Regions from separate parts of the Homo sapiens genome. Here region 2 is linked to region 1. Evidence: fine-mapped expression QTL. A gene starts in region 1. The other region holds a variant in brackets. All regions are shown on one strand. Distances are between the middles of the regions.

Region 1 (12,128 bases):
TGAAGCCAATAATTCAGGACTTATTCCTTCTTGTGTTGTGTTTTTTTTTGGCCCTTGCACCAGAGTATGAAATAGCTTCCAGGAGCTCCAGCTATAAGCTTGGAAGTGTCTGTGTGATTGTAATCACATGGTGACAACACTCAGAATCTAAATTGGACTTCTGTTGTATTCTCACCACTCAATTTGTTTTTTAGCAGTTTAATGGGTACATTTTAGAGTCTTCCATTTTGTTGGAATTAGATCCTCCCCTTCAAATGCTGTAATTAACAACACTTAAAAAACTTGAATAAAATATTGAAACCTCATCCTTCTTCTGTTGTCTTTATTAATAAAATATAAATAAACAGGGCATTTGTTTAGATTTATTTTGTCTTCATGCTCTGTGTATTATATATTATTCGTTTTCACTCACTGTACAACAGATTACCATATGTTTAGCAGCTTAAAACAACACTCATTTATTTCACAGTTCTGCAGGTCAAAGCGAGGCAGGTGTGCATGCCTACCTGGACTGTGCTTAGCTTCTCACAATGCTGGAATTAGGGTGTCGACCAGGCTGTCTTCTCATTTTATCTGGGGGCTTGGCGTCCTCTTCCAGGCTTTCAGGGTTGTGGTGGAATTCAGTTATTTTCAGTTGTAGGACAGAGGTCCCTATTTCTTTGTTGGCTGAGCCACTCTCAGTGCTCAGAGGATGCCAGCATTCCTTGCCATGGGGTCCCCTCCATCGCCAAAGCCAGAAACAGAAAAACTCCCTCATGTGAAATCCCTCTCACACTTCCAGTCTCCTCCAGGTAGAGCCCCAACTCTTTTAAGGACTCACCTGATTAGGTTAGGCCCAATGAGGGTAATCTCCCTTCAAGTTAACTGCCAGGTAAAGTAACCTAATCACTGGTAATATCCTTTCATGTTTGTAGGTCCCTCCATATGGGTCATGGGAAGGGGTGATTTTGGAATTCTCCCATATATTTATATGTTTTTAATAACTTGATGGTGGATTTTTTTTTTTTTGAGGCGGAGTTTCATTCTTGTTGCCCAGGCTGGAATGCAATGGCGCACAATGTCTGCTCACTGCAAGCTCCGCCTCCTGGGTTCAAGCAATTCTCCTGCCTCAGCCTCCCCGCCTCCTGGGTTCAAGCAATTCTCCTGCCTCAGCCTCCCGAGTAGCTAGGATTACAAACATTTGCCACCACACCCGGCTAATTTTGTATTTTTAGTAGAGATGGGGTTTCTCCATGTTGGTCAGGCTGGTCTCAAACTCCTGACCTCAGGTGATCTGCTCACCTTGGCCTCCAAAAGTGCTGGGATTACAGGCGTGAGCCACCACATCCAGCCTATTGTGGAAACACAAATAGTAATAAACTCTATGCATGATCCAGCTTCAACAAATATGAACATTTTTTTCCATTCATGATTTTTCAGCAGAATTCCTTTTTTTTCTATGTTTGAAAGTGACATTCAAAACAGGAACCATCTATTTTAGCATTTTATGCAACTGATCACCCAAAAACTGTGGGCCTCAGTATTTGTCATACTGTCTTCAGGGACTTGCAGCTATTTCTAAGTGAATGTTCATAGAATTTATCCAGAGATTATGGCACATAGTGGTTGCTGGGTACATCTAGTCAGATGTCAGGTACAGTATTAAGATATTTTACTTTTAGAGACAGTCTTACTCTGTCACCCAGACTGAAGTGCACTGTCATCATCATAGCTCACTGCAGCCTTGAACTCCTGGGCTCCTGTGATCCTCCCATCTCAGCCTCCCGAGTACTTGGGATTACAGGCATAAGCCTGGCCCTAAAATATTTAAAAATGTATAAAGGGTTCTCTTGAGTATGAGGGAATATTTCCCTCACTAGTTACTTATTGTCTGCTTGTTGCATGCAGCATGTTGGAATATCATTGTGCAAAATGCTTTGAGTTCATAATATCTCACCAGTTAAGAGAATTGAGACAATCTGGTATGAGGACACAAATGGACAAAGTGGACAATGAGTCAGGGAAGAGGACTGCAGTGTGTTTATTATAGATTAACTTTAAAGTCAACAAGCAGAAACTAAGATTGAGAAGCTCATTTGTTGAACTGAGTGGTTTTACAGAAAACTTAAGTACCGCTCAGAGAAGGGAAGCTCCTGGGGGACTGGGAGGACTTTGCACCTTGGCTAAAGTGGAGAGTTTGCAATAAGGACACCATTCAGTCTAATACGGGCTTCTGGGGGATTTCGGGAAATGTGCAGATGAATGACTTCTTAGTTTTCTTAACACAGAGTTTGTGTGTTTCTGAGCTGTCACCAGGGTGAGATAAAAGCTTAGGGGAAACCAGATTCAGGAGTAGAACACAGGCCCTTTAGAGAGACAGCTCAGCTGTGTCTCTGGGGGATAACAGCAATCTTCGCAGGGAATCATAGAGACCAGAATGGTGAAGCTGTGGGCACAATAAATGTCTTGCTTAACGTCACATTGATTTTCCTGAAATTGATCAAATGGAACTTTTATGAATTGAAGCCTGTATCTGTTTATTAAGGAGACATTTACAGAACGTACACACAGAGCAAAGTATGGCGCCAGGGCCCTAGGTGAACTTCTTGGAAGTTTGTAAGTTTGCATTTTTATACACTGGGGATTTCAAGTAACAAAATTTAAAAAGAGAAGCTTATTTTAGGAAATCTGAAAGTTATTTTCAATGGCAGCCCCTCACCTCTACTTCCTAGCTACCTTCCTTTCTTTTCCTCCATAATTTTTTTTTTTTTTTTGAGACGGAGTCTGTGGCCCAGGCTAGAGTGCAGTGGCATCTCGGCTCCCTGCAGCCTCCACCTCCCGGGTTACAGCGATTCTCCTACCTCAGCCTCCCGAGTAGCTGCGATTACAGGCACGCGCCACCACGCCTGGCTAATTTTTGTATTTTTAGTAGAGTCGGGGTTTCTCCATGTTGGCCAGGCTGGTCTCCAACTCCGGACCTCAGGTGATCTGCCCTCCTCGGCCTCCCAAAGTGCTGGGAGCCACTGCACTAGGGCCGGTCCATAATATCTTTATCATCTTGTATAGTGTGTATTTTACACCATATTCGCCCTCACAAGAAAATAAACTGCCAAGGCGGGCGGGGGGGTGGGGGGTTCTTTTTGTTCACTGCTGTATCTTAAATAGGGAGAGGTGCTAAATCTTTGTTGAAAAAAAATAAATGACTGTCGGGAAAGATTTTTAAAAATTACTTATAATCCCATCACCGAAATAGGACTACTTAACATTTGTGTTTCTTTCGCCTTTGAGAGAGGAAGAGCAGTTACTTCGCTTTCGTGATCAGTCTGTTCTACAGCTGGATCTTCCTTTTTAAAATGGCTAAAAACGCTATTTTTGGCTGTATAGTACCCAATCATGCAGGCGGCAGGGAGGGGCTCGCTTTGGCCCTCTTCAGCACGTCACACCCTACCTTTAATCCGCAGCCAACTGTGTGGCGGTCCCCACTTTCGCCTAGCGGCAACTCCCTCCTCCCTGCAATCCTTCCTTCTTATTCCGGTTTCCAGAGCACGTCTCCAGGCTTCGACGTCACCACGCTGGGACGTATGTGCCGAGGGCCGCGGCGTCTGACCTCATGGCGTAGAGCCTAGCAACAGCGCAGGCTCCCAGCCGAGTCCGTTATGGCCGCTGCCGTCCCGAAGAGGATGAGGGGGCCAGCACAAGCGAAACTGCTGCCCGGGTCGGCCATCCAAGCCCTTGTGGGGTTGGCGCGGCCGCTGGTCTTGGCGCTCCTGCTTGTGTCCGCCGCTCTATCCAGTGGTAAAGGGGGGCGGCAGTGTGGGCTTAGGAAGGCTAGGAGGGCTCGGGCGCAGGGCAGGAGACAGGCCGGGCCAGGGAAAGGGCGCTTCCAAGTGTCAGGAGCAGACGGCGGTGTCTGGTTGGGTCAGGGTCTCCGCGGGCCTGAGGACGGAGGGTATGGTGTCTGAAGGGGTCCAAGGTGGTAGGGTCTCCAAGGGGCCTGAGAAGCGGGGTCCCTGAGAGATGCAGGAACCCAGGGAGCAGGCAGCAGGGTGTGTAGATGGGCGGGGAGGGAGGAGTGGTGTTAGCGCCTAGAGATCGTTGAAGAATGGGCTGCCGCAAGGAATGGCGGTGGTGGGGTCTCCAAAATTTCTTGGATCGGAAAGTTAGGAGACTCTGGAAGAGAGGGTGGCGACAGGGGCTGAGGAGGTGGCCGGGGCTGGGGGTGTGGTGTCTGGAAAGGGTCCTGAGTTTGGGGGACTCAGGAATCTTGCAGGACCAAGGAAAGGTGGGGGTTTTCCAGAATGGGAGAGGTCAGTGGTAAAGACCGAGGCGGGCAGGGGCAGTAATCCAGTGACTGGACTGAACCAATGGAATATTTCCGAGAGGGAAAGTGAAAGGGAAAGAGCTGTCTTAGGGTACTGGTGCATATTTGAAGACTGGGAGGTTCTGGTGTTTGATAAAGATTCAGAGTACTGGGGCGTTGGGCCCCTGAAGGCTTGGGAGGCAGAGAGGAGTTTGGAGACAAGGGAGATCATGATTCCTCTTCCCTGTGTTCCGAGTTAACCAGGATAACCCTGCCTCGTTTTAATGCATCTGTAGGATTTGATTGATAAAATATTTCATTTCTTGCAAATGTTGCATGGTGAAATCAAGAGATTGAAGGCTTTTATTGAGAAATTAGGAAATCTGTAAACCAGTGCCTGATACTTGGTGGGAAAAATCCACTATTAAGAACTTGTAAGGATTAAACGGTATTTTGTTTAGTAGTCCCATTTTTCTTTCAGGCCAAGACACAGTCCTGCGTTTCTCCCTAAATTTGAATTTTCAGCTGCAAAACAGTGTGACCTGGTATAGTGTTTTCTTTCTTGCCAGCAGGGCCTGTCCAGCCCTACATTCCTCTGCGACAGTACTGTGGGTACATACTTATGTTTCCTCAGCAACATTTCAGTGTTGCTAACTGGACGCCCTCCCAGAAGTCTTTGCAGTCCCTGAGGAAGGACTGCTGTCCATTTCCTAAGGCCCTTTTATCATTAGTGAAATGTAATGAGGATTTCCCTGGTTGATGCAGATATTCCCGTTCCTAAAGTACTTAAGTAGCTTAATTGTTTTGGCCATTTAATCATCTAAGAAAAATAAAACACAAACATTTATATTTCCTGCTGGAATGCTTAAGGGATATATATCTGGCAACTGTAGTTTCAGAAACAGCTTTTTTCCCCTAAGAGATGGTTGAAAATTGGGCAAGAAGTGAGGCAGAATGTGGACTGTTAAGTGTCCTTTAGTCTCTGCTTTTATTTGTTAGAGCCCTATAAATATTTTTCTAACTATACTGAGACATTTTAGAGAATCTTTATCTTTTAAATTAAGTCTTTACATACACCAGTTTAAAATGTCATAAATTCAGATTATTCTGTCCTGAAAAGAAGCTAAATGAAAACGAACATACATGTCTTTAATAGGCGAGCAGCTCCACTGCACTACAGTGTAGCTTGGGATATAAGTATTTTTTGTAAGCATACCTTATAATTTCAAAGTAGTCACTCCTGTAATAAGAAAATTAGTCTAGAATGTGTTGAGTTCCAAATTTCAAGTGAGTTTACAAAGGTAGAAGGTTACCACATTAGATTTATTTAAATTTGTTCCATATTAGGTTTTAAAAACTGTCAATGCTTGGTTATATGCTCGTCAGTCTGTAAGAATTTTTGTTTTATGTTTTTGTTTTGATCAAGTCTAAAAAATTAACATAAGCAGTTTGGATCACTGGGTGACTAATTCTTGGTCATGCCATTTCAAAAATGCCTGGTTCTCTACATTTGCCATTATATTGTCCCCAAATGATCACCTAAACTTAATGTATAATGCATTTCATTTTTAAGGCATTGTTTCTCAAACCAGTGTGTGAATGAGTTCTCGGGGTCCTCTGCATTCTTAAGTTTAAGAAATGCTGATATAGTTTTATTTTAGGGCAGTTTTTAAAAAGGGACCAGTAGAAGGGGAGAATTAAATTTATAAAGTTTTGTTTTTTGTTTTTTTTTTGAGTCTGTCGCGAGGCTGGAGTGCAGTGGCGTGATCTCGGCTCATTGCAACCTCCGCCTCCCGGTTTCAAGTGATTCTTCTGCCTCAGCCTCCCGAGTATGCTGGGACTACAGGCGCGCACCACACCTGGCTAGTTTTTGTATTTTTAGTAGAGACGGGGTTTCACCGTGTTATCCAGGATGGTCTCAATCTCCTGACCTCGTGATCCGCCCGCCTTGGCCTCCCAAAGTGCTGGGATTACAGGCCTGAGCCACTGTGCCCAGCCTTTTTTGTTTGTTTGTTTGAGACAGGGTTTTGCTCTGTCGCCCAGGCTGGAGTGCAGTAGCACAAACTTGGCCCATTGCAACTTCCGCCTCCTGGGCTCAAGCAGTCCTCCCACTTCAGCCCCCTGAATAGCTGGGACCACAGGTGCCTGCCACCGTGCTCAGCTGATTTTTGTATTTTTGTAGAGATGGGGTTTTGCCATGTTGGCCAGGCTGGTCTTGAATTCCTGTGCTTAAGCGATCCACTTGCCCTGGCCTCCCAAAGTGCTAGGGTTACAGGCGTGAGCCACCGTGTCCGGCCTAAGCTTTATTTTTAAAATGTTAAGCTTCAAGTAGAGAGGTAATATCAATTAGGAAAGGGAAGATTTAGAAGTCTTATTTATATGCTCATAGAAGGTCAACAGTTAAATCCGTAAAGTCAGAGTTGTACCTTTGTTCTGAATACTCTTCATATCTGACTTAATCAACTTCTCTGATTTGAAGGAGTTTGAGTAAGTTGATAGCCTTTGTATTACATGTTTCAGGTCAATTATTTGTTTTTTCTTGTGCTGTATTTGTGTATTACTTCCAAGATTTTACTGCTTGACTAAGACATTCTGCTCCTACTTGGTGCTAGGTATTGGAGTTAAACAATGAATAGGGTGATACTGGGGGTATCCTTAGAAGAATGAGTGGCGTTTTGCTGAGAACCATGGCATGGGCTCTTGAGGGAGTGCAGTAGGTGCATAGATGCTATGTGGGATGTGGTGTGGGATTTGTGGTGAGAGTTGAATCGAGAGCATATTCAATAAATATTTATTGAGTGCCTGCTATCTATTAAGTAGGTAATGGGGATAGAGCTGTTAGGGAGATTAGTAAGATAATGAGAGTGAGGTAATGGGGGCCAGATCATGTAGGATCTTGAAGGCTATTATAAAAATTTTCACTTTTGTGAGAAATGGATGGCCCTAGAGGGTCTTAAGTAGAGGAGTAACATTTGATTTAAGTTTTGACAGAATGACTCTGGCTGCTGTGTTGAGTATAGACAGTAGAAGTTAGGGTGGAAGCAGGCAGATTAATTAGGAGGCTATTGTAATAATCCATGTGAGATAATGGTTACTTGGATGAGGCAGGAGCAGTGGAGGGTGAAAAGCCCTCAAATGCTGCATATGTCAGAATAACAGATTGGATGTGGGATGTTAAAAAAAATGACAACTCCAAGGTTTTTAGTTTTAGTAACTACAAAGATGTAGTTGCCATTAATTGAGATGGAGACTAAGTAGAACAAGTTTTTTTGTTTTTTGAGTGGGGCATAGGAATTTATTTAAACTTATTTTGAGATAATTATAGATTCACTTGGCAGTTGTAAGAAATAATATAGAGATCCTGCATATCCCCTACCCAGTTTTCCTAATAGTAACGTCTTTCAAAACAATAGTGCAATATCACGACCAGGATATTAACATTGGTACAGTCAAAATACGGGGCATTACCATCACCACAAGGATATCTCATATTGCCCTTATAAAGCCACCCCACTTCCCTCCTACCTCACCCCTCCTGAACTCCTGGTAACCACAAATTATCCATTTGTATAAGTTGGTAATTTTGAGAATCTTACATAAATGGAATAATACAGTATGTAACTTTTGGGATTGACTTTTTTTCACTTAGCATAATTCTCTGAAGATTCACCTAGGTTGTTACATGTGTCAATAGTTTGTTCCTTTTTAAATTTTAACTTTTATTTTTTCGAGAGTAAGTCTTGCACTCCAGGCTGGAGTGCAATGGCACGATCTCGGCTCACTGCAACCTCCGCCTCCCAGGTTCAAGCAGTTCTCCTGTCTCAGCCTCCAGAGTAGCTGGGATTGTAGGTGCACACCACCACACCCAGCTAATTTTTGTATTTTTGGTAGAGATGGGGTTTCACCATTTTGGCCAGGCTGGTCTCGAACTCCTGACCTTGTGATCCACCTGCCTTGGCCTCCCAAAGTGCCCAGATTACAGGTGTGAGCCACCAGTCCTGGTTGTTTGTTCCTTTAAATTGCTGAGTAATATTCTATGGTATAGGTAGACTACACTTTATTTATCTGTTGAAGGATGCCTGATTGTTTCCAGTTTTTGGCTATTATGAATAAAGCTGCTATGAATGTGTTTGTGCAGCACTCCAGCCTAAGTGACAAAGCGAGACCCTGTCTCAAAAAGAAAAAAATAAAATGAGCTTTCTATGGACATCATGTAGTTGAGTCTGCCAGTCTCTGTTTTTTAATTGATGTATTTAGGTCATTTACATTTACTGCACTATGGATATGTTAGAGCTGAAGTCTGCCATTTTTATTTTTTGTCTTTAGCCTGGGATATATGAGGTAAAAAGAAAAACCTAAGGAAGTCACCACCATGTTGTTTCACATATCCTGAGGTCTCTAACTGTTCTACCCAGTTCTTTCCACCTTTCAGAGTGTTCTTGTGTTATTTTATACATAATGTTCAGAGCTTTTAGTTGTTTTTAGTGGGAGAAACAGGGAAGAGTGTGTTTGTCTTCCTGAAAGCCAGCCAGAATTCATTTTGAACATATTAATGTGAATGTCAGACATCTAAGAGGAGATGTCAAGTAGGTGGTTGGATTTATGAGTCTAGAATTCTGGTCGTTCTTGGAAGTTCTTTTAATTTTTCTCAGAAAAGTTAGGAAGTGATGTCATCAGTTGAAAATGAGGATAACAGAGAAGACATTTGAAGTTTGTGGTTAGAGGAAAATGTGATTGGTGTCCTAAGAGAGTAGAAGGGTAAATGGACTAGGAAAATATGATTGCCAACAATTTTAATTGCCAACAGCTTTAAACATACACCTGAATCTTTGGCATTGAATTTAAAATGAAATGAAAACAGTGGCATGGTTGTATATTTTTTCTAGCCATGTTCAGCTGCTGGGTGCAGATGTGAGTAGTCAGAGAGCTTGATTTATTAATAACTAGGGATGAGTGTAGTCTCACCAAGTGAATGGGTCAAAGTGGACAAGGGGGAAGGGAATTGAAGATGGATGTAAGAGAGTGATTATAAGCAATTATAATAGCTGACACAGAATTGAATCTGAATAAAGAGAGAAGAGAGTGTATTGGGCAAGTTTTGATGGTGACCGTAAGGGAATGAAAAGGATTAGAGGGTTGTAGGTGTTTATGGATTGAGAATACCAGGGAATGAACTGGAAGGATAGGAGGTCTTGCCAGCAAGTAGAATGCATGAAATTGAGATTATGGAAGAATTGTGATAATAAATAATGACTCTGGGAGTGAGTGGCTGAGGTAAAGAGGAGGGCTAGCTCATGAGAAGAGAGGAGGTCAAAGATTTTGAAATCAAGGCAGGAGTACTTGTCTTAGATGGAGTGAACTCTAGAGCCAGGAGCTAAAGATCATTAAGAATTAGGGGGCATGACTTTGGAGTTGGATGAAAGTAAGTTAGTGCATTATAGCTTAAGATAAGAGAATCAAAGCTAGAGGCATTTAGGGAGAAGAACGGGAGAATGGTCTGAAAAGGGCAATGAGGAGGAGAACTGTGCCTCCTTGAGATTCAGTGGTTCAAGGATGTGGGAGAAAAAACAGCTATTACTTAAACAGGCTGAAAGGAAAATGTGTCCTTAAGGGAGAGTCAGGTTTCAGTAATAACAAGAAAGCAAAGGGTGAAAGAAGGGATTTGCTGATGACTGTGAATTCTATACTGCGTGGTGGAAATTTCTTTATAATTATTCCCACCCTATCAGCTTGTGTCCTTTAAAGGTACTTACCCATGGAAAAATTGTTCTTTTAAAAGTTAAGTTTAGTTAGTTGGCTCCCACTTATTTCAATTTTAAATTTTATTTTAAAACATGTTTTTTGTACTTTGGCAGGAAAATTAAATGTATCAGAAAATAATAATTTTTAAATTCTTGAATTATAACTAAGTTGAAGTGATAAATGCAAAAATTATTTTCAGAAATTCCTGTTAGTAGTTTTCTGAGTAATGTACTGAGTTGTAGGTCCTGTTTATTTCTCTTTTCTTCCAGTAAAAAATTTCAAGGAACTCAATTATTGAAAATGTTTTAAGAGTTTTACTGTAATCCCAGTACTTTGGGAGGCCAAGGTGGGAGGATTTCTTGAACCCTGGAATATGAGAGCAGCCTGGGCAACATGGCAAGATGCTGTCTCAAAAAAAAAAAAAAATTGCATATGGCATTGGACAAATATATGAAAAATAAAAAAAGCCAGGCAGGGTAGCATGTGCCTGTGGTCCCAGCTACATGGGGGGCTTGAAACCAGGAGGTCGAGGCTACAGTGAGCTATGTTTGTGCTACTGCATTTCAGCCTGGGCAACAGAGTGAGACCCTGTCAAAAAAAAAAAAGGGAAAAAGAGAGTTTTACTAATTTATTGGTTTTTTTTTTTTTTTTTTGAGATGTGGTCTTGCTCTGTCGGCCAGGCTAGAGTGCAGTGGCGCCATCTCGGCTCACTGCAACCTCCACCTCCCAGGTTCACGCCATTGTCCTGCCTCAGCCTCCCGAGTAGCTGGGACTACAGGTGCCTGCCACCATGCCTGGCTAATTTTTTGTATTTTTTAGTAGAGACCGGGTTTCATCATGTTAGCCAGGATGGTCTCGAGCTCCTGACCTCATGTTCAGCCTGCCTCGGCCTCCCAAAGTGCTGGGATTACAGGCGTGAGCCACAGGGCCTGGCCTTTTTTTTTTTTTTTTTTTTTTTTTTTTTTTACTAACTGACTACATTATTTTTCTGAGATCCTCTGTTCATTCTAATTGACACCAGCTATTTCTTTTTTTTTCTACACAAAATGGATGTCAACTGTGGTACACAAACCAGAGTGTATTCACATGAAGAAAGGGTTGTCTGTTGGATTGTTAACTTGTGTGAATGCACATGTTTGTGAAAGCACTAGAATGACTTGGTTTAATCTTACCCCTATAAAATATTTTACTTTAATGTGATAGACTTTAAAATATTGTCTGAATATGTTTAGATCTACATGACAGAGGTTTTTTTTTTTTATTTTTTTAGTGTAGTAGAGGTCCTTGAAGTTCTTCAACAGATACTACATTAGATTATAAATTAGAGATGGTTAAATTTCGGCAGGGATTCCTCTGGAATCTTCCTCTATTCATTCTTCTTGGTAAAAGAATAGTAAGAATTCTTATGTAAAGAATTTTACCTTTAGTAAACTATGCTGAGTAGGTAGCAGCACAGGGAAATAAGAATGTGTGTGTATTTGGTGTCATTTGCTATACCTAGATGCCTTCCCTCATCTTCAAAATAGTCTAGTTGTCACTTAGCTCTCAGGTTCCCGTTTCGGATGCTTCTCCTTTAGAAGTTTTTTCTTCTTTGTAAGGATCCTTCTTTTTTTTTGAATTTAGGAGAGGGAGTCCTCTAGTTCAAGTATCACTTAGAATTACTATCTACAGCATGCCTATAGCTTCCCCTGAATTTGTTATGTTGTGTTGAAAGTATTTAGGTCCAAACTCCATATCTTTTTTGGGACCTACTTGAGTGAGAATCAGCCACTTTTTGGTCTGTTCTAGGGATCAGGTAAAGTCTGGACAAGGTAACTGAAATCCACACCCTTTATGAAATGAAAACAGAGGGGATGGGTGAGGGCTGTATGTGAACTTTGCCATCGTGACTTAAAGTCAGCCCTTTTTCTTTTCTTTTGGTGGCAGGCTGTATGATGCAGTAGGTCTTTTATGCTGCTTAAATTGTTAGTATCTAGCAAAGCAATTATTATCTGAAGAATAACTGACTAAGAAGAAATGTAACTGAATGCTGGCTATTGAGACTTAATAACTAGTTTTCGAGAAAGTTATAGGAATGTAGCAGAGAGAAATGCTTAGTGTAAAATTT
Region 2 (17,126 bases), 40 kb before region 1:
GCAGGCGTGTACCACCATGCCCGGCTAATTTTTGTATTTTTAGTAGAGACGGGGTTTCACTATGTTGGCTAGGCTGGTCTTGAACTCCTGACCTTGTGATCCGCCTGCCTCAGCCTCCCAAAGTGTTGGGATTACAGGTGTGAGCCACCGCACTCAGCCATGACTTATTTTCCTTTGGGTGGAATGGTAGTTCTATTTTTAGTTCTTTGAGAAATATCCAAACTGCTCTCTACACTGGCTGAACTAATTTACATTCCCACCAGCAGTGTATAAGCATCCTCTTTTCTCTGCAGCCTTTCCAACAACTATTTTTTAACTTTTTAATAATACCCATTCTGACCGGCGTGAGGTGGCACTCATTGTGGTTTTGATTTGCATTTATCTGATGATTAGTGATGATGAGCATTTTTTCATGTTTGTTGACCACTTGTATGTCTTTTTATTTTTATTTTTTTGAGACGGAGTCTCACTCTGTCATCCAGGCTGGAGTGTGGTGGCACGATCTCGACTCACTGCAACCTCCACCGCCCCGGATTCAAGTGATTCTCCTGCCTCAGCTTCCTGAGTAGCTGGGATTACAAGCGCGTGCCACCACACCTGGGTAATTTTTGTATTTTTAGTAGACTCGGGGTTTCACCATGTTGGCCAGGTTGTCTCAAACTCCTGACCTCAGGTGATCCGCCCACCTTGGCCCCCCAAAGTGCTGGGATTACAGGCGTGAGCCACCATGCCTGGCTGTATGTCTTCTTTTGAGAAGTGCCTGTTCATGTCCTCTGCCCACTTTTTTTCGGGGGGTGGGATGGGAGACGGAGTCTCACTCTGTCACCCAGGCTGGAGTGCAGTGGCACGATCTCAGCTCACTGCAACCTCCGCCTCCCGGATTCAAGTGATTCTCCTGCCTCAGCCTCCCGAGTAGCTGGGATTACAGGTGCCCGCAACCATGCCTGGCTAATTTTTGTATTTTAGTAGAGATGGGGTTTCACCATGTTGGCCAGGATGGTCTTGAACTCCTGACCTCAGGTGATCTGCCTGCCTTGGCCTCCTAAAGTGCTGGGATTACAGGTGTGAGCCACCGTGCCCAGCCCTCTGCCCACTTTTTAATGGGGGTCTTTGTTTTTTGCTTGTTGAATTGTTTACATTCCTTATAGATTCTGGATATTAGAGCTTTGTTAGATGCGTAGTTTGTAAATATTTTCTCCCATTCTGCAGGCTGTCTGTTTACTCTGTTGATAGTTTCTTTTGCTGTGCAGAAGCTCTTAAGTTTAATTAGGTCCCACTTGTCAATTTTGTTTGTTTGTTTGTTTGTTTTTGAGACACAGTCTTACTCTGTCACCAAGGCTGGAGTGCAGAGGTGCGATCATAGCTCACTGCAGCCTCGACCTCCTGGACTCAAGTGATCCTCCCACCTCAGTTTCCTGAGTAGCTGAGACTACAGGTGTGCACCACCATGCCAGGCTAATTTTTGTATTCTTTGTACAGACGGGTTTTTGCCATGTTGTTCAGGCTGATTTTTGTTTTGCTGTAACTGCTTTGGAGGACTTAGTTATTTATAAATTCTTTGCCGCGGTTGATGCCCAGGAGGGTATTTCCTAGGTTTTCTTCTAGGATTTTAATTGTTTGAAGTCTTACATTTAAGTCTTTAATCCGTCTTGAGTTAATTTTTGTATATGGTGATAGGCAGGGGTCCAGTTTCATTCTTCTGCATATGGATAGCCAGTTATTCCAGCACCATTTATTAAATAGGGAGTCCTTTCCCCATTGCTTATTTTTGTCCAACTTGTTGAAGATTAGTTGGTTGTAGGAGGGTGGCTTTATTTCTGTGTTCTCTATTCTGTTCCATTGGTCTATGTGTCTGTTTTTGTACCAGTACTATGCTGTTTGGGTTATTGTAGCCTTTTAGTATAGTTGGAAGTCAGGTAATGTGATGCCTCCAATTCTGTTATTTTTGCTTAGGATCCTTTGGTTATTCTGGCTCTTTTTTTTGTTTAATATAAATTTTATAATAGTTTTTTTTCTAATTCTGTGAAAAATGATGTTGTTAGTTTGATAGGAACAGGATTAAATCTGCAGATTGCTTTTGGCAGTATGGACATTTTAATGATATTGATTCTTCCAATCCATGAGCATGGAGTGTTTTTCCATTTGCTTGTGTCACATAGATGATGCTTTCTAACTGTGTCTTTACATGGTGGAAAGGGTGAACAAGCTCTCAGGCCTCTGCCCTAATGATAATTACATTTCAAAACCTCTGCCTTCTAATACCGTCATCTTGGGACTCAGGATTTCAACATATCAATTTTGGGAGTAAACATTCATACTATAGCCCCATTCTAATAAATCATTTCTAGAATTGTCTTTTAGAGGTTGTATATTAGTTTCCTATTGCTGTTGTAACACTTCCTATTGTGTTGTAACTGTGAACCACAGACTCAGTGGTTTAAACAACTCAGATTTATCATTTTACAGTTCTAGAGGTCAGGAGTCTGAAATCAGTCTCTCTGGGCTAAAATTAAGTGGGCATCAGGGCTCCCTCCTTCTGGAGGCCTTGGGAGGAGAATCTGTTTCCTTGTCTTTTTCAGCTTCTATAGGTTGCCTGCATTCCTTGGCTCATGGCTCCTTCTTACATCTTCAGAGCTAGCGGTGTAGCATCTCCAATCTCTCTCTTTCTTTCTTCTTTTTTTCTTTCTTTCTCTTTTTCTTTCTTTCTCTCTCTGTCTCTCTCCCCACCCCTGCCCTGCTCTGCTTCTGTCATTAAATCACCTTCTCTCACTCTGACCCTCTTGTCTTCCTCTTATAAGAACTGTAGGCCGGGCATGGTGGCTCATGCCTGTAATCCCAGCACTTTGGGAGGCTGAAGTGGGTGGATCATCTGAGGTCAGGAGTTTGAGACCAGCCTGGCCAACATGGTGAAACCTCGTCTCTACTAAAAATACAGAAATTAGCCGGGCCTGGTGGTGGGCACCTGTAATCCCAGCTACTTGGGAGGCTGATGCATAAGAATTGCTGGAACCCAGGAGGCGGAGGTTGCAGTGAGCTGAGATCACGCCACTGCACTCCAGCCAGGGTGACAGAGTAAAACTCTGTCTAAAAAAAAAAAAAAAAAAAGAACTTGTGATGACATTCTTGGGATTACATTGGGCACACTTGGATGATCTAGGACAATCCCCCCATGTCAAGATCCGTAACATCTGTATGATCTCACTTAAATGTACAATCTAGAATAATCACACTCATAGAAGCAGAGAGTACAATGGTAATCTTCAGGGCTGGAGGGAAGGGAAAATGGAGAGGTGATGATCAAAGGGTATAAGGTTTAGTTACGCCAGATAAATAAATTCTGGAGATCTATGCATCTGACAAAAGGTATAATATCTAGAATCTATAAGGAACTTAAAGAGTTCAACAAGCAAAAAAACAAATAACCCCATTAAAAAGAGGGCAGAGGGGGCTGGGCGCAGTGGCTCACACCTGTAATCCTAGCACTTTGGGAGGCTGAGGCAGGCAGACTGCCTGAGCTCAGAAGTTTGAGACCAGCCTGGGCAACATGGCAAAATCCCATCTCTACTAAAAACAAAGAAAAAAATGTGGGCAGAGGACATGAACAGGTGCTTCTCAAAAGAAGACATACAAGTGGCCAAGAAACATATTAAAAAATGTTCATCATCACTAATCATCATCTACTATACATCACAGTGCCTACAGCTAACAATACTGCACTGTATACTTAGATTTGCCAAGAGGATAGATCTTAAGTGCCCCTACAAAAAAAAAAAAAGGGAATGGGGGTAGGGGAGGAAACTTTGGGAGGTGTTGGGTATGTTTATATGCTTTACGGTGGTGATGGTTTCATGGAAATATACTTATCTCCAAACTCATCAACATATATATATTAAATATGTACAGCTTTTTGTATGCAATCCTATCCCAATGAAGTAGTTTTTGTTTTGTTTTGTTTGTTTTTTACATTCACAGGTTCCAGTGAGTAGGATGTGGATATCCTTGGGGGGCCATTGTTGTACTTACCATAGTTTGCCTCCACAGTTTTTAATGTTGGGGTTGAAGTAATACTGAACATAGATTGCCTTCCATTAACATTGTAACAGAAATATTTCCCCACAGGAAATTTGTTGTTGTTGTTGTTGTTTTGAGACAAAGTCTCGCTCTTGTCCCCCAGGCTGGAGTGCAATGGTGTGATCTCGGCTCACTGCAACCTCTGCATCTCGGGTTCAAGCCATTCTCCTGCTTCAGCCTCCCGAGTAGCTGGGATTACAGGCGCCTACCACTATGCCTGGCTAATTTTTGTATTTTTAGTAGAGGCAGGGTTTCATCATGTTGACCAGGCTGGTCTCAAACTCCTGATCTCAGGTGATCTGCCCGCCTCAGCCTCCCAAAGTGCTGGGATTACAGGTGTGAGCCACCACGCCCGGACCCCCACAGGAAGTTTTTGTAACCATATTTCCTCAAGGTTGTGAGTGATTCAATATGCCCAAGCTGGAAACCAGGTTGTGTTCCGTCCTGGGCTGCTGTCCATTTTCCTGCAGCAGGCATTCCCCATACTTACAATGATGGTCTTAGCGTGGGTTCCCAGCATCAAGGGGGGTGGAATAGGATTATGATTCTGATCGCATATAGCCTAATTGCTTTTCAGAAGGATTGTATCACTTTACACATCTCCTGATGAACCTCATATGACTTTCTTAAAGCTGAAAAAAGTTCGCTCTTTTTATAATCAAGGTATTATGTCCTCATTAAAGCATATTTGGAGGCTGGGCCTGGTGGCTCATGCCTGTAATCCCAGCACTTTGGGAGGCCAAGACAGGTTGATTACTTCAGGTTAGGAGTTTGAGACCAGCCTGGCCAACGTGGCAAAACCACATCTCTACTAAAAATACAAAAATTAGCCAGACGTGGTGGCACGCACCTGTAGTCACAGCTACTTGGGAGGCTGAGGCATGAGAATAGCTTAACTCGGGAGGTGGAGGTTGCAGTGACCCGAGATGGTGCCACTGAACTCCAGCCTGGGTGACAGAGGGAGACTCTGTCTCAAAAAACAAAACAAAACAAAACAAACAAACAAAAGAATATTTGGGAAATGTAAAAAGAGCCAAAGGAAAAAATCACTCATAGTCTCATAAATAGAAACACAACTTAATAATTATGTTTCAATTTATAAGAATTGATCAATTCTGGCTGGGTGCAGTGGCTCACACCTGTAATCCCAGCACTTTGGGAGGCGGAGGCCGGCAGATCACAAGGTCAGGAGTTTGAGACCAGCCTGGCCAACATGGTGAAACCCCATCTCTACTAAAAATACAAAAATTAGCTGGGCATGGTGTCGTGTACCTGTAATCCCAGCTACTTGGGAGGCTGAGGCAGAATTGCTTGAACCAGGACCTGGGAGGCGGAGGTTGCAGTGAGCCAAGATCATGCCACCGTACTCCAGCCTGGGCTACAGAGAGAGACTCCATCTCAAAAAAAAAAAAAAAAAAAAAAAAAAGAATTGATAAATTCCCATAAATACTTCATTAATACTTAATACATTTCTTTCCAATATTTGTCTCTCTGTGTATATATATACAAAATTCTTAAAAATCATAGCTATGATGTTGGAGCTTCTTGGAATTGTTTTAGATTAGATCTAGGACACCTCATGTTTTGGGATATGCAGGAGAATATTATCAATTGTGTTTACCTTGGGATGCTTTCTGTCCTGTTTCCCCAAGAGATTACTGCTGTCACTCAGAACCTGGAGGCCCAGCTGGGTCCTTCCCTGGATGCTGAGTGTCAGGGCACAGTGTGGGGAGTGTGGCCTGAGATCCTTGACCACAAACACGCCATCTTGATTCTTCCTACCCAGACTCTAGTCTGAGGAGTTCACTGGAAAATGATTGGAAAGTTAGGTTTTATGACAATGCAACTTTATAATCCAATTAATTGATGCTGGTTACAAGCAGAATATCTTTCTCTTTAAAAATTAATTTACATAAATGACTACCATTTCTGCCTTCATGAACTTCATCTTCAAGCTCTGGTACTTAGCACAGACAATGCTAAGAAACCACATAGAAATCCAGGGACATCTGGCTCTGAAAAGAGAAGAGTTGGGAGTGTTTCATCCTATGTTCTTGAAAGGGGGGTGGAATAGGTTTATGATTCTGATCATAAATTGGCTGCTTTCCACTTTGATAAATATCTACAGTAGAAGCCCTAAGGCTGTAAGTTAGAGATAAGACAAAAACCAAAAACTCCCTAAAATGAAATAGTCTTACATTGGTAACCCATTCCAATATTAACAATGAAAGAAAAATCTCATTTTCCCTGGATGTTTTACATTGTTCTTCTTGAATGGAGGAGAGGAACTGAGTTAGCATCTGGAAGAAAACAATCCAAACTGGACTAGGCAAAACAGGAGGCCGTTGGCTCAGGCAGCTGGTAAGTACAGGGTGTAGTCTCCGGCATGGCTAGATTCAGGACCTCATCTCTGCCTTTCTCTTATGGGCTTACTTCATTTTCAGGGAGTCTTTATTCCTGTAGCCCCAGGAATTCTCATCTGGTCTCATTGGTCCATCCCTGCGGGGCGGGGATCGGGGGCGGTGGGAGGCCAGGATGTGGGGGCGGAGAGGCGGGGGCAGGAGAGGTATACAGGGCTCTAATTGGTCAGACTGGGCCATGTGGCCACTCCCAGGAAGGCTTTGGAGTCAGGGATGGAGTCAGCTCCATGAAAGCTTGCTGACCAAAAGGAGAGGGAAACAGGGTCATTCGCCCAGAGAAAAACTGAGGTTAGGATTGTCCTGTCCCCACAAACCTCCTTCTCCACCCACCAAGATTTGACTGTCTTCGCCAGGGACTTGCTCTAGCTGGGTCAAGCTCAAGTGGGGTTATTGAAGTGGAACAGGGAAACCCACGCATGGCAAGAACAGGGGGGCACTCAAGGAACAGGGGCCCAGAGCCACCCTCTGCAGCGGCTGCTCCATTCTCTGTTCTGTGAAAAGCCCTCGTTAACTTCGCAACACCGACAGGGATGCCAGACCCAGGTCTCCCCAAGGGCCTTGAAAGCTCCCGCATTTTCCCCTCTGCCATACTCATCCCTGGGTTTCTCAGTTCAGGTTTGCAAGAGAGGATCTGATTGACCTGGCTTGGGTCAGGGGCCCAACCCTGACCCAATCAGCTGTGGCAGATGGAATGGAGGTGGGGCTCAGGGGGTTTCCCCTCTCCCTCAGGGTTGTGGTGGGTCAATGGATTCTAGTGATTATGGCACCTGCAGATCTCAGCTGATTTTGTTTTTTAAAAAATTACTAATACTATTTCTTGAGACGGGAACTTGCTCTGTGGTCCAGGCTGGAGTGCAGTAGTGGGATGCTAGCTCACTGCACCCTCGAACTCCTGGCCTCAAGCCATCCTACCTCCTTGGCCTCCCAAACAGTTGGGATTACCCACATGTGCCTCTGAGCCTGGCCCAGTTACTGATGAGTGCCTACTCTTTTTTCTTTTTTTTTTTTTTT[G/TG]GCAGAGTTTCGCTCTTGTTGCCCAGACTGGAGTGTGATGGTGAGATCTTAGCTCACCGCAACCTCCGCCTCCTGGGTTCAAGCAATTCTCCTGCCTTAGCTTCACGAGTAGCTGGGATTATAGGCATGTGCCACCATGCCCGGCTAATTTTTGTATTTTTAGTAGAGACGGGGTTTCTCCATGTTGGTAAGGCTGGTCTCGAACTCCCGACCTCAGGTGATCCAGCCGCCTCAGCCTCCCAAAGTGCTGGGATTACAGGAGTGAGCCACTGCACGGGGCCGAGTGCCTACTCTTTATGTGTCCCATTTTAAACTTACACCAACACTCTGAAGCTGAGGCTCTTAGAGGCCAGCCTTCTTGCCTGGGTCACGCAGCCACTAAGTGAGTGGTTAATCTGAAACTAGCACCTAGGGGAGCTGGCGAAGGGGCCCAGGGTAGCAGAGGCCATGAAGAACTCTTTCCAAGTTGTTGTTTTTTTTTGTTTTTTTTTTTTGGGGGGGGGGGACAATGTCACTCTGTCAGTCAGGCTGGAGTACAGCGGCTCAATCTCAGCTGACTCCAGCCTCCTCCTTCCAAGTTCAAGCGATTCTCGTGCCTCAGCCTCCTGAGTAGCTGGGACTACAGGCGCGCGCCACCACGCCCGTCTAGTTTTTGTATTTTTAGTAGAGACAGGGTTTTGCCATGTTGCCCAGGCTGGTCTCGAAGTCCTGGCCTCAAGTGATCTGCCTGTCTCGGCCTCCCAAAGTACTAGGATTACAGGCTTGAGCCACTGCACCCGGCCCAGATTGGTTCTTTAAAGCGGAGTTGAGAGGTGGCGCTGGAGGGGAGGAAGCCCTTCGACATTTGCTCCCAGCCTCAAAACTGGGTTGCACCGGCATCTGTTCCTAGCCCTGTGGGGTTCCTGGAGCCCCGCCTTGTCCCGCCCGGCCTCCCTGAGTTCTTGTCCTCCCCCTGCCCACCAGTCTCAGTGTGCGGGGTGGGGACCACCAGGCTGGGAAGCCCAGAGTTCCCAGGCAACTCGTGCGCCTGGGAGGGTCATAGAATCCGTCCTACACTCCTCAGGATCTTGAAGGGGGCTCTTCCTTACATTCCCAGTCACCCCTCCCCCAGCCCCTACACAGGGCCTAGGTAACCTGTCTGCACCCCACTCCCACTCTGTATCAGCTGCCCTCTTCCTCAGCACCCTATCCCACTGGAGCACCTTTTCCAACTCCAGTCGCCACTTTTAATCTGCCGCCTTTTCCCAGCAGCCAGTCCTGATTGCCTCCTCCGTAGCCCCAGTTGCCCACTGCTTTAGATAGTGTCGCAGCTGGCTGTGAGGAGTGTCCTGATTCTGTAACCCGGCACCTCCTCCACAGGGCCCTAGACGCCTCAAGCCTTCCAGGACGTTTGTTGATCAAAGGCGAAGGATGTGTAGAATCTTCGTCCATCTACGAATTAATTCTCGAAACCTGCTTCGAGTGGGCCTCGCGCGTAACACAGGGGACACTCAGTGGTGAACGAGACCACTCGCTTAGGCCTAGCAGCGAGGTGACCGTTCACTCAACACACACTAACTGGGTCCCGCAGGACACGCCCCGGCTGGTCGCGGGGGTTACCCGGGGTGCCCTCAGTCGGCCGGCCGGCCATAACCGGCGTGATCTCCTCGCGCCGAGAGACCCAGCAGGGACCTCGCAAAACCCAATCCACGTTTTGTTTTATTTTGTCTTTTTGCCTCTCAAATGCATGGAAATTGGCTGCTAGTAGCTTTGCTACAGGAGAAAATCGCTAATCTGTAGTGCAAAATCGGCGCACAGGGGTTTTCTCTGAGATTGTCTAGACGCCGCGCGGGCGGGTCGGAGGCGCCAGACACATTGTATCCGGAGCGCGGAGCTCGGGAGCAACAGTCGCCGCCTCTACTCTGTATCTGCGCCGCCCCAGGCGCCCAGTGTCCGCGCTGGGCCTGGGACTGCCCTCGGGGGATGGGGCCCACGCGGGCTTTGATGGGGGGCCGGGGGCCACTTTGTCCACCCAGGCGAGGCTTGGGTCCAGCGCCGGCCACATCAACTCCCGGGGGATCTAGCAGCGCGGAGGCCAAGCAGGAGGCCCAGGAGCCCCGCGCGTCTTCCATTAGCGCAGGGACCTCCGGGCCACAGCTCAGAGAATCGGAAGGCCTCCTCCCCCTTCCCGAGCGCTGCCACTGGGGCCGAGGTTTCCAGCAAGAACCCGCGTGTCCCTGCGCACGCACACACGGTGCACACGTCAGTCCGGCGCCTCCCCGTGCCCCGACTCACGCAGGTCCTCCCGCGCGCCCGCAACACGCCCGCAGGCTCCTGTGTCTGCTGCCGGGGCAGCGGGGCCCGGAAGGGTAAGAACGCGGCTCGCTAGCGGGATGGGGACCCTGGCCCGGCCTGGACGCTGTCCCGGGCGGGGCCTGGGGGCGGAGCGCGCCGGGCCGGGCGCGCAGGAGGGGAGGCGGGTCCGCGCCGCCGCCGTCCGCGCCGCCCCGCCCTTGGCCCAGCCGCTCGCTCGGCTCCGCTCCCTGGCTCGGCTCCCTGCCTCCGCGTCGCAGCCCCCGCCGTAGCCGCCTCCGAGCCCGCCGCCACATCCTCTGAGGTAGGCGCAGCGGAAAAGGACCCCGGCTTCCTTGCGCCCTGGACGGCGGGGGCCAGGCCCCTGGGGAGCTGAGAGGGAGGCGCTGAGGGAGGAGCGGGCGAGGGGCCCCGGCAGCCCGGCCGCGGGGAGGGATCGCGAGCGGCCGGCGCGGGCCTGGCTGGTGAGCGGGCGGGCAGAGAAGGCCGCACAGGCGGGTGCCGAACAGGTCTGGGCTGGGGAGCGCGAGGCCGAGGGTCCAGAGACGCCTGCGGCTGGCGGCGAGAGGCGGCCCGGGCTTGCGGGCGGAAGTGCAAGGGCGGCCGCGTGGAGGCCCGGCGGGCCGCGCGTCTAGGTGACCTTCCCCGGCGGCGCCCTCTGGCCCTGGATCCCACCAGCGTGCATCCGGCGGGGACCCGTTCGCCGCCCACGCTCGCCGGACCAGGCCAGCGGGCGGGTGCCGGCCACGCTGCCGCCTCGGGGATGAGCTCACGTGACGACCGTGGCCCCGAGTCCCCAGGCCCACGCGCCCTGGCCGGCCCACGCCCGCAGAAGCTGGCGCCCGGCACCGCCCGCCTGTGCCAGAGCCTTCTAGAGCGGAACGCGCCGGCCGAGAGTCGACTTAGGCGGTAGAGGCCGGAGCTCGGGCCTGGGCTGAAGGTTTGGCCTCGGAAAAGGAGGCCCCACGGGGAAGGATGTGGCCTTCTTGGTCTTAGGAGTGATTACTGGTTCGGTCGTTCATTCATTCGCCAAATGCGGCGGTGCATTCTGGAAACTGTTTCGGAGCCTGACTTTGGATTAGAGGCCCGCAGTCTTAGTGGTTTGTACAAGGTCACACAGCTGGGAAGTCCCCATACCTTCGTTTTCTCATCTATAGGACGGGAGCAATTGTACCTCTCCTTCGATGAGTTTTGGGGAATAATAAAATGAATTAATTAGCATGAAACCTTTAGAACAGTGCCGGTGTGGAGAAGGGCTAAGTAGAAACCCTGACACCCTTGGGGCTTTTTGGGTGAATCCAGCCCATCCCCCGCAGACCATTTTGCTACACGTGGCGTTGTGGAAGGGGTTCAATAAATGTAGCTCCTGTTTTTAAACATTCTTTCACTATTATTGACAAGCATTTGTATACCAGGTATTGAGTAACTTTCAGCTTAATTTATGAAAAATCTTGTAAGTTTACAAATGGACATTGTCAAGCTGGAGCAGTAAGTTTGCATGTGGAGATCTTGAATGCAGGAGCAGACCCTGGTTTAGAGCCCGTTCCGCCCGGGGTCCCTGTCCCCTTGACTAGCCTCCCCTCTCCTGGGGAGATAGGGGAAAGGGCTCCTCTGTTGCCTAAACTTCTCCACTGAGGCAGGAGAAGGCCAGAGCAGACTACCGAGGGCCAGCCTTCATTCTGCCCACCCCAGCTCTGGACCAACTCAGCTCCTAAGGGTCAGACTGAGGCACTGAGGCCCTGTGCTACTTTGTCTTCAGTGCCTGGGGTGGTGCTGCCTGGCACACAGTAGGTGCTTGAGAAGGGTCTGTGGGGGTAAATGCACTCTTGTGTCAGAATCCACCCATCTTTACTGACAGAGTTTTACTATTCCAGTACATGGCCCATAGTAGGTGCTTATTGAGTATTTGTGGAATTATTGAATGGGCATATGAAGGGCTGCAGGCCCAGACCATAGTCCTTTGATCCTGGACTTTTTTTTTTTTTGAGACAGGGTCTTGCTCTGTTGCCAGGTCTGGAGCGCGGTGGCACCATAACGGCTCATGGCAGCTTCTGTTTCCTGGGTTCAGGCAATCCTCCCACCTCAGCCTCACAGAGTATCTGGGATCCCAGGCACACACCACCACGCCTGGCTAATTTTTGTATTTTTAGTAGAGTCGGGGTTTCACCATGTTTGCCAGGCTGATCTCAAACTCCTGGCCTCAAGCAATCCACCCGCCTCCGCCTCCCAAAGTGCTGGGATTACACGCGTGAGCCACCATGCCCGGTCCTGGACATCCTTTTGAGGGACACAGACATCTCACTTGTGGAAAACAGCCTCACCTAGCAGAGAGTCACAAATATTTAAAGAACTGTAACAGTATGTATAGTCTCTTGAAATAAGTGCTTTAAACACATCGTCTTCATTCTCTGGTTTTCCAAGTCCCGAGGGAAACTTGTTGAACTGGTGTTTCTGGGCTTGCAGGGAGGGTGACATGGGTGACTGGGATTCTACAGAAGGTGTTGGGCCTGTTACCCCTTCCCTCATGGTGGGTGGATGGACAGCTTGTGCTGGGGTTGTCCTGAGTAGGGTGCCTGCCTGTGGGTAGTGGGGACTACTCCTTGTTGATTATTTAGTTTTATTTTTGCTATTCTAGAGTGGGGCTATAGGCAGGGGTTATTCGTAGCTCAGAAAGTGGGGGACCATACAGGGATGAGGTGCCTGTGGGCCCCTGGCCTTGCTGAACACTAGGCAGGTGTGGACAGTGAACTCCATGCTGGGGAGGTGAAGGGCATCCAACCTCTACCCTTACCAGGAAGATGCTCCTGAAGCACTGAAGTCCACTTCGCCTTTGATGGAATTTCCCGTGGTGTAGTGTCTTCGGTGGTAGTGACTGGAAGAGGCGCATGTGTGGTTGAGGACCAGCCGAAGCTTGGAGGCAGCCCCTCCTGGTGCTCAGAGATTCTGTAGTCTGCGGCTTTGGGTTTTCCATGGAGTCCTGTGGTAGCCACTGAGAAAAGTTGACCAGTGGGCTCCTCAGCTGGGTCTGGGCGCATTTCTCCATTTTACCACGTACTCAGGGGGTTTGGGATGAGTGGGACTTTAAGTTCTTTACTCAGAACTGTGCTGGAAAGAGCACTGGAGAGTAGCTTAGGCCCATAACACAGGTCTGGTGAGCCATAGGGTCGGTCTCATACAGGTCAAGTCACTGTCTTGTGCCTCAGTTTCTCTCTCTCTTTTTTTTTTTTTTTTTTTTAGATGGAGTCTCACTCTGTTGCCCAGGCTGGAGTGCAGTGGTGCAATCTCGGCTCCCTGCAATCTCTACCTCTCGGGTTCAAGCAAGTCTCTGCCTCACCCTCTCGAGTAGCCGGGATTACAGGCGCCTGCCACCATGCCTGGCTAATTTTTTTGTATTTTTTAGTAGAGATGGGGTTTCACCATCTTGGCCAGGTTGGTCTTGAACTCCTGACCTCCTGATCCACCCGCCTCGGCCTCCTAAAGTGCGGGGATTGCAGGTGTGAGCCACTGAGCCCGGCCGAGTTTGTCTGCTATAAAAGTATGATTGTCGTCATTACAGTGATTGCTGATTGAGGGCTTGCTCAGCACCTTTCTGGGGGCTCAACGAATGTTCTGTGATGTTGAGTTCACCACCCTATACCCTGGGAGAGAGATAGTGTGTTTCCATTTCACAGGTCAGCAGACTCGAGCACAGAGAGGTGAGGTAACACAGCCTGGCAGGAGTGGAGTTGGGATTCAAGGCCTGGTCTGAATGGTGGTGCTCTCACATTGCAGTTGCACTCCAAGGGACCCTTGCAAGGTGCTAACAGATGTGAATGCCTTTTGGAAAGTCAAAATTGGTGTTCAGATGGGAGACATTATTTTTCCACACCAGTCAGAGTGAACTTGTGCATGGCTGTGTGCGGGCCAACTGGCAGTGGACAATGGAGTCACCTCTATTTCTTGCAAGGACAGTGGTGCTGAGTGTCTATTATAAGGGTCCGTTTTCCCTGGGATCTGGTGGGAGGCATTCTTTCAGGACCTGTTCAGCTAAACAATGCCTCATTGTGGACATGAAGGACTCTGGACCCTGTGGTTCAGGGTGACCTTTTGAACATGCTTAGCAGCCATTATTATAATAAATATACAAAATGAAAACTTGTGATAAAATACTGTGTGTATTCCCTGCTTACCAAGCGCCAGCCACTGTACCAAGTGTTGTATATTAACGAGCTAATTCAGTCCTCACAGTGACGCCATCCAGGCTCTCTTTCTCCATATTAGAGCTGAAGAAAAAGGAGTAGAGAGGTTGCGACTTGCCCAAAGTCACATACCTAGAAAGTGGTGGGGTGGGTTAGAACTCAGGTCTATTTGATTCCCGAGGCTTCCTGCCCAAGCACTGTCTGTCTCAACCCTACCTGGTCAAGCCAAGCAGTGAGGCTCCAGGGAACTTGAGGTGCCTTAGGTCAGGTAGGAGCCCCAGGTATGCCTGGGATCCAGACCATAGTGTACTGGCTGCCAGCGCAGGCCATCTCCCCTTGATAGGTGGGTGGGCAGGCTGCCCTGAGTCAGCAACCTCTTGAGCCCAGGAGCTCAGCATGGAACTCAGCTGTGCTGGTGGTGGCCCAGCTGCCAGGGTGTTTCAAAATAGAAGCTACCCCTGGAAAGCTCTACTGCCCACTGCGAGACTGTTGTGGAAGAATGGAGGGAGAGAACAGCTGCATTGGGTACGCAGACCTGCTACCAGAACACAGGGCCATCAGCCTTTGCCAGCATCCTGGAGCTTGAACCAGGAACTGTTCCCCTGGGTTGTTTCTTCCTGGCAAGAAAGAGAAAGTGCTGGAGTGTGTGTGTGTGCATGCGTGCATGTGTGTGAGCGAGCTGCTGATTGTGTTCGCCCCCATGTTGGCTTTTAGAGCTAGGGTTGCCTTCTGCTGGGGAAGTTGCTTTTCCTGGTCCTCAGGGCTAGGAAGAGGTGCTGTTTCTGTGATCACTGGCTGGTCTGATACCCCTCCTATAGGCTGGCCTAGTTCTGCCCTGACAAACCACCTAGAATGGTGTTGGTGAAACAGCGGGGCCAGAGACTTTTCCATAGTACTCTCTTCCTTGGCAGAATCATAAGATGATGGCAATGATGATGATGATGGTTGTGATTGCTCTGTTGGTTAGCGTCTTTGCAGGGATCTGGTGCACACTTACACTTGGTAATCCAGGAGAGTTTAATGAAGACATCATTTGCAAAGCTGTGGATGGGGTGTCAGGTCTGGTCTGTTAACACCCTGAGGCCTACAAGAGAGGGAGCTTCTTGGCAGGAGCTGTGGCCTTGGGTAGAGGAAGGTAGTCATTGCCCATCTGAAGCCTAGCAGGGAGGGAGACTCGGGGTGAGTACCCCGACTTCATTCTTCCCTAAACTCCCGTCTTCTGCAAGTACCTCACGTTGAAAGGCTAAGCCCAATCATAAGCCCATGGACAGCAGTCCATAATGATCAGTTCTGGGGGCACAGAGCAGGGTGGAAGGGAGGAGAATGGATCTGGAGGGGCAGACAGAGTATCCAGTGTAGTGGATTATGGTTATTACTGCCATTTGTTGAACACTTACTCCATGCCAGATACTTCTGCTGTTCTGCCTGTTTCACTCATTCCTTGTAACAACTTCCTTAGGCCTAAGGCCTTTCCTCCCAGCTGTTTTTAGCTGAGTCTTGGAGACCCATGGCCACCCTGCTCCCTGTATCAACCATTGCAGTAGTTGTTGGCTCTCTAGGGGTGCAAAGCTCATCTGCCTGAATCCTTCTATTATTACTATTTATTTCTTTTTATTTTTTATTTAAAAGAGACAGGGTCTCACTGTATTGCCCAGGCTGGTCTCGAACTCCTGCATTCAGGCGATCCTCCTGCCTCAGCCTCCCAAAGTGCTGGGATTAGAGGCGTGAGCCACCATGCCTGGCACATGCCTGAATCCTTTTGAGGGAGCCTCTGCAGAGAAGAGAGCATATTTCTACCAGGCGGGGGCCTGGTAGGTGCTTAGTGCAGGAACCGCCCTGAGCTGCTGCTTCTCAGTGGCACCTGGGGGCAGCCCTGCCTGTTAGGCACAGGCTGAGAGGTAGGGCAGGAGGAGTTCCATCTCTTCTGGCAGGCTCTTCTTGAACAAGCGCCTCCGGTGATTCTTGTGCACCCTGAAGTTAGGGAGCTCTTTCCTGCTCATGATTTCTGGCAGGGTGGCCAAGCCACTAGTGGTCACCTGGGAGTGAAATGTGCCCCGACGGACCTTGCCTGATAACTCTTCCATCTCAGTGTAGTTTAAATCTGTTCTTGCAATCTGTATGGACACTCTAGGTAGCCTTCTGGCATTGCTACTGCAGCAGCCTTGGAACGTGATTTGGGACACAACACAGCTCAATTTCAGGCACAGTGGTTGGCTTTTAAAGTGCTGTTTTTTTGGAGAGGGAGTCTCTCGCTCTGTCACCCAGGCTGGAGTGCAGTGGCACGATCTTGGCTCACTGCAGCCTTTGCCTTTGGGTTCAAGTGATTCTCATGCCTCAGCCTCCCAAGTAGCTGGGATTACAGGCACTTACCACCACGCCCGGCTAATTTTTGTATTGAAATTCTTTATCCTTAAACAAATTATTAGTATACACAAACAGCTTAAATAATGAAGCAGAACAAAAAATGAAAATTCGATTTGAAGTGCATTCCTTCCCTAAACCTCCTTCTCCAGAAGCGTATCTAAGCCAGCCCCAATTTGCAGATTGGCTTGTATCCTTCCACATGCTTTCCCATCCATTCATGAACATAGAAAGATGTGTAAAAAGGTTTTCCTCCAATTACATGGAATTACAAATTTTCTGACTTTTTTCATTTAACTGTATCATAGCTAGCTAGCTTTCTTTCTTTTTTTTTTTTTTGTTTCGAGACGGAGTTTTACTCTTGTTGCCCAGGCTGGATTACAATGGCGCGATCTCAGCTCACCACAACCTCCACCTCCCAGGTTGAGGCAATTCTTCTGCCCCAGCCTCCCGAGTAGCTGGGATTACAGGCATGCGCCACCACGCCTGGCTAATTTATTTTGTATTTTTAATAGAGACAGGGTTTCTCCATGTTGGTCAGGGTGGTCTCGAACTCCTGACCTCAGGTGACCCGCCCACCTCGGCCTCCCAAAGTGCTGGGATTACAGGCATGAGCCACTGCGCACGGCTATCGTAGCTTCATAGCTAGCTTTCTATGCCACCACATACATCCACCTTATTCTTTTTTTTTTTTTTTTTTTTTTGTGAGACAGTCTCGCTCTGTCATCCAGGCTGGAGTGCAGTGGCATGATCTTGGCTCACTGCAACCTCTGCCTCCTGGTTTAAGCTTGTG

What was found. PIP is the estimated chance that this variant, and not a neighbour inherited with it, causes the effect.
Region 2: its variant is fine-mapped to the expression of C5orf15 in whole blood (INTERVAL, PIP 0.98).

Annotation. Positions count from the first base shown.
Region 1 is chr5:133,960,092-133,972,219 of GRCh38, reverse strand. C5orf15 (chromosome 5 open reading frame 15) reads left to right here and starts at 3,595. Exons shown (of 3, transcript NM_020199.3): 1 at 3,595-3,774. The coding sequence starts at 3,636. VDAC1 (voltage dependent anion channel 1) reads left to right here. Exons shown (of 9, transcript NM_003374.3): 9 at 1-349. LOC105379183 (a long non-coding RNA gene) reads right to left here and starts at 3,531. Exons shown (of 2, transcript NR_134247.1): 1 at 3,428-3,531; 2 at 1,997-2,469. RefSeq lists enhancers at 3,452-3,671, 4,302-4,401.
Region 2 is chr5:133,997,619-134,014,744 of GRCh38, reverse strand. It overlaps VDAC1 (voltage dependent anion channel 1), which reads left to right and starts at 9,770. Exons shown (of 9, transcript NM_003374.3): 1 at 9,770-9,850. RefSeq lists enhancers at 8,927-8,996, 9,037-9,096, 9,167-9,286, 10,937-10,986, 10,997-11,046 and silencers at 9,457-9,506, 9,547-9,606, 9,667-10,706. The variant G/TG (reference allele first, on the strand shown) is at 7,503.